Linked DNA regions of Homo sapiens: region 2 is linked to region 1. The links come from fine-mapping of genetic effects on gene expression. A gene starts in region 1. The other region holds a variant in brackets. All regions are shown on one strand. Distances are between the middles of the regions.

Evidence for each region. PIP is the estimated chance that this variant, and not a neighbour inherited with it, causes the effect.
Region 2: its variant is fine-mapped to the expression of GREM2 in whole blood (TOPMed, PIP 0.94).

Annotation. Positions count from the first base shown.
Region 1 is chr1:240,610,948-240,613,869 of GRCh38, forward strand. It overlaps GREM2 (gremlin 2, DAN family BMP antagonist), which reads right to left and starts at 1,208. Exons shown (of 2, transcript NM_022469.4): 1 at 937-1,208.
Region 2 is chr1:240,686,695-240,689,616 of GRCh38, forward strand. LOC105373228 (a long non-coding RNA gene) reads right to left here. Exons shown (of 4, transcript XR_949320.2): 2 at 1,271-1,457; 3 at 1-81. Among named protein-coding and RNA genes, the nearest start is that of GREM2, 76 kb to the left of the region's middle. The variant G/A (reference allele first, on the strand shown) is at 1,297.

The DNA of each region.
Region 1 (2,922 bases):
AAGCAATGCTAATTTAATCACAAGTCATCAAGGGGTGGGGAGTTATATAACTATCTTTAAAATTTCAAATCAAACATGATAAAATCTCAGGAAATAGATTTTTTTAACAAAACCCACACCTCAAAATAAAAAAAAAAAAGAAATAGAAGTTTATGAGTTTTAGGATCAAATAAAATAAAATCAAACATCAATATTTTCTTACAACTATCACATCTACTAGATAGTTCCAATTCATGACTTTTTAATGTAGTAATATGTGAGATCCTGGAACTGAACGTGCCTGGCGTGCAGAATACAAATGCATTTTTAAACTCGTAAGACAATGTAGAAATAAGTCAGGTACACAGGAAGGATCACTGACAATCACGTTAAAAAATAACTACCTCCCTTCTCTCTTCTCCTTCAACCACAGCGTAGTGATAATAGTGATATTTCCCTCATGAGGCGGGTGCACCTTGGCCATATGCTTTAAAAAATCAAAACTCTGCCGAAGTCCGCTGTGGTTCCTATTCCTGTAGGGAGGATATTAACCTGGTAGGTAGGTGGGAGAGGTTCGTAGCCCGCTTTCTAACAATTGGATGGTGTTTGCCTCGCTATAGTCATGATTAGAATGGCGGTCACCAAGAGGTATTTATTGGTGGGATGACAACATATTGGTATTGACGTTATTTAAAAGAGAAAGAAAGAGCGATCACGGTCAAGTTTGAAGGTCCTTATGTTACACCCACGCATAATTCAATAGGTGAATAAACCTTGTGGCCCCCAGACACACGCCAACAGCTTGAATTACCCGGGGTGAAACCGGCGAGACGTCCACTCAGGGCTTTCGGTCCTGACCAGCCACGGAACAAACAACGTCAATTCATTCTAAGTGCCTGGTGAAGGTAGAAATCAGAAACCGTGTCTGTGTCACGTTAGTCGTGACAAGCTGCGTACCTGCAATGACGTGATGGAAGCCTCCTCCTCGGGTCCCTTCTCTCTCTCTCTCTCCCTCTCCCTCTGCCTTCTCTGAGTTCTCTAGTCCACAGCGGGGTCTAAGTTTGGTCTCCCGCCGCCGCTTTCAGTTCGACCGCAGCCAGACTGCAGCAGACGCCCATAAGAGAAGCGCGCCGGCTGAGGGTGCAGGAGAGGCGAGAGCGCGCCCCGCGCCGCGCGGTCCCAGGCTGGCTGCTCCTGCAGATGTGAAAGGAGCCCGGAGACTTAGCTCTGAATCCTCTCGGCGCTGCATGGGGATATTATCAGAGTCTGGGATTTCTATTGGCTCTGAACACCAAACAAATCACACCAGCCACCCCCCTTCTCTGTTTCACTCAGCGCTTGTTTCTCATCTAACCCACAAACATTGCAGCCACACCACACACTTCAGTCGCTTGCAATGTTTCTCTTTTCCTCCTTCCAGTCAGTGGATTTACAACCCTGTGGTCAGCTCTAACATTTTTTTTAGCAGACTTCCAATTCTAACCTTCTTGTTTATGTAGAGAAATTCTCCCTCCATCCCCTAAACCAGAAAAAAACAAAAAACAAAAAAAAAACACTCATTCCCTTCAGATCTTCTTCCTTTTGCTGATGGGTTTCCAATGTGAAGAATGTAGAAAGCCTGTGTGTGATATGTCTGACATTCTCATACACGTGCGCTTACACACACACACACACACACACACACACACACACCAGGCTCCTTTTGTTTGCAGTAACTGAGGCCAGTGAAATAAAAAGCAAGCTGAGCCTAATAACCTAAGTGAGAGCTTAACTAATAAAATCTTGAATGAATTCAGTGCAAAACACCCATTGCTTGAATTTGTTTTCTGTTCCAAATAGTACTTTGGTCATTATTATCCTGATTTTTGTTTATTGAATGCAGAGGTTTCTAATGCAAATCAGACTCTTCAACATCCAGAGAACATAAAACAATGACGCCAGACCAATTCTTGTGCTCCATCGGCTTGGTGCGTTATACCAGAAGCGTATTGTGACGCCTAAGTGCTTGCTCTTTTCATTATTTTTTGAACTTCTCACCACTGATCATCTCAGGACTGAGACTCCCTTAGTGTGATTCACCAGCCAAAGACGACTATTCAGACTCTGCTGATAGAGGTTCCTGGATGAAAATTTTTTATCTGTATGTGTCAATAGAGATAAACCTTTGGCCCCTTGGCAGGGAAAGGGCCCAAGAAAAATCTGAGATCTTACAAACTTGGCTGGGGAAATTCAGAATAAAATAAAGTTTCAGTGTGTCTTATAAAACAGACCCTCCCTTAGACTTTTCCCCAAAATCAATTTCACTGGTGCTTATGGAAATTTTAATGACAGTTATTCTTGACAAGAAGCCATTGCTTCTGAAATCTCTGAGCTCTGTTTTGATTTTTGACTTGAATTTTTTTTTTGCAGTGTTATCCCTTTTGTATGCTATTTGGTATTTGATATTCTAGTTCCAACTCAACTCACAGCACATTGGGTTGCAAATTCACAGGAAATAACAATTAGTTCTTGAAATATACTATCACCAAACAGACTACCTGCCTTCTTTCTTACGTGGGCACATTACAGGAATTGTGAAATGCAGCCTTATTCTCAGAATGGGCCTGCCTGAAATCAGCTGAAATTGACAAAGGAAATACAAAACAAAACCACGTTTAGCAGTTGGTTCCTGCTAACCACAGTCTAACCTCAAATGGCATATCCTTATTGCTTCAACAACTCCAGTTCATTCCCTTTCTTTAGGTAGGCAGCTAAAAACAAAATACTGTCATAAATCTTTGAAAGTGTAGAATGTATTTCTTCTAAAGATCTCAACAGTCTTCGAAAAAAAAAGGAGTTATAGGTATGATATTCCAGATTTTCCAGGTGGAGAAACAGAGTGGAGGAATGATAAAGTGACTTGCTGAAGGCAGACAGCAAATAGAGCTGGGAGAGTGGATGACT
Region 2 (2,922 bases), 76 kb after region 1:
AGGAGCTCCGAGATACGTGCTGGTAACAATTAATGTACAGGATTGTACCAAAAAAACAAGTCGTTCATGCTATAAACTTCACTGGAATACAAAAGAATTATAGGAATTGTCTCTTATCGTCAAACACATCACTGTCCTTTGAAATCAAGGGGTTCATTGTTTGATACCTGAATTGTTTATTCACCTGTATAAAAAGCAGGTCACAATTTTTTTTTGTAGTTTTGCCAAGCAACTGAGGGTCACTAAATTTCATAAGTACAGATCACCGCTGTGCTCTCTAAACAGCCTTTGTCCTTAGTTTTAACTCCACAAAATGTCAAGATAACAGACACTAGTCTTTTGGTCTCAGTTTTAATGTGAAATCTATGCCCACAAAATGCCACTCTCAAATTTGTGTTATTAGCTTTTCTGAATCTATTCACCAATCTACAAACGATAAACACTCAGACCTAGTTTCCTTTCTTGGGTCAAAAAGCATTCCCCAAGTACCATTTACATTGAAATCTGGAAATGTGGCTAAAAGTCTTTGTGTGTGTGTGTGTGTGTGTGTGTGTGTGTGACAGGTCTCGCTCTGTCACCCAGGCTGCAGTGCAGAGACCCTTTGAGGCTCACTATAGCCTCAAACTCCTGGGCTCAAGTGATCCTCAGCCTCCCAGTGGTCTTTGTAGACAGCCTGATGGAGTCTCATGGCACAGAAGATTAATTAAACGATGTCTTTTAATTTTAATCAATTTTTGCAATCCAAAAAAAGCCTCATTCGGCCAGGGTGAGGAAAGGATGACAGGATTGTTCAGCGGCGTTTCTACTTGACTTTGTTGTAAAGTCATTTAGGGTAAGGAAACTTGGAGAATCAAACAGCTGGTGTTAAATTGGCTAAGCATATCATTTTCCGAAACTCCTTTCTGATCTTCATTAAGGAAACCAATATATGATGGGGAACTCATTCATAAGAGAGACGAGTGTTCAAGTATTTTATATTTTCAAGGATTTGGAGGCTGATGCCAACACTAGTGCATTAATTGCCTGACATTCTGAGCTCAGGCCCACTACCTTTTTGTTCTGAGGTTTTGACTGATCTATATATTCTGGCTTTCAATAAAGGCCTGTCACAGCAGAAAAACAGAAAAGGGATGCTGAGTACGAAGTCAGTTATTAGCTAAGTGGTTCTTCAGGCTTTTGTTGTTTGCCATGAAATTTGCATCTTGCAAAAACTGGATCTGTGCTCTTGGCACAACGGATGTTTCATATTTGCCAAATAAAGTTTCAGTACCTTTGCCTCTGGTTCACTGACTTCCC[G/A]TCTGTGACGTGCACCTCTTCCTTTTTCTCTGAAGGACAGTAGTAAGTCACAGTGCTCTTCCTGTTCAGATTACCATCTTCAAGTGACTGGCACTCATTGGCTTCAGAAATGCTATTTTTTTTTCCTCCTGCTTCTGGAATGTGACCAGACAAGATCATTCCTATGGCAAAATATGATTGAGAAATAATATTTTAGAGGCTGGGAGATATTGTGTCATGCCACACCAGGTAACTGTCTTAAGTAAAAGACATAAGAAAGACACAATGAATGATATGATGCTTTTCAAGGATCTTTTTTTTTTTTTTTTTTTTTTGAGATGGAGTTTCACTCTTGTTGCCCAGGCTGGAGTGCAATGGCACAATCTCGGCTCACTACAACCTCCACCTCCCAGGTTCAAGCAATTCTCCTGCCTCAGCCTCCTTAGTAGCTGGGATTACAGTCATGCGCCACCACGCCCGGCTAGTCTGTATTTTTAGTAGAGACAGGGTTTCTCCATGTTGGTTAGGCTGGTCTTGAACTCCCTACCTCAGGTGATCCGCCCGCCTCAGCCTCCCAAAGTGCTGGGATTACAGGCATGAGCCATCGCGCCCAGTCTCAAAGATCTTAATGATTGAAACAAATATAACCAATAAGTAGAGATGCAAGAAAAATGTCCATGTGTTTACATGCCAGTTTACATTGAGGAGCATTAAGAATTCACCATTCTTGGTATGTCATTGTAATTTCGTACATATTTTATTTATCCAAATTTTTTCTTTGAGGTAGGATGGGAGGGAAATGATTCACCATAACTACTATTTATTTAGAACACAGTTAATCACCTTCCCTCACCAATAACCTTGCCTCACACTACCTTCCCAAGGTTTGCAAAACTCATTACCAAACAAACCAAACAAAAAGATGAAAAACAAAACAAAACAAAGCCAGAAACTCTATTCTGTGTAAGAGTTATTAACCTGTCATACGTGCAAAATAATTATGAGTGAAATTTCATGAATGGAATGGAAAATCATGCATTTGTATTCGGGGGAAGAGGATGCATAGCATTTTCCAGATTCTCAAGGCAATTCAATGCTCCCAAAAGGTTAAAAGCCACTGCAATTGAAATTGCTTTTTCTTCAAACACCTCCAGTCTCCTTTTCCATGTAAAGTATTGAAGTTTTAGGCCTCTGCTGCTTGCCTACACTGCAATCATTTCTTTTTATTTTCTAAATTATCAAAATAAAGGGATCATGTTGTTCTACATTTCTCGTTTTTACTTTATCCTTGTCTATGTCTGGGTGACTTTCGGAAAAGCAGAAATCCGTGTCTGGCCTCTCATCTGACTCTTTTAAGGCTGGCAGAGCGGTGTCTGCCCATTCCAGTTGTTAACAGGATTTTTCTTTTTCTTAACTCTTAATCTGTTTCTGGGAAGCTTTTAAAATACATTTTCCCCCTTCTCTTTCAGATATCCTCAGCTTCCCTAGCTCAGGGGGATTCATGCAAATTGTGTATTCTCTGGGGGATGCATTGCTGGTAGATTCTGAAAACGTCTCAGCTTTTTTCCTCCCATTGTCAAATACAATGATAATTTCAGGCTTATCTTAAAGGAGGTTTTGTTTCCATAATTCACTTCAGTTGTGGAA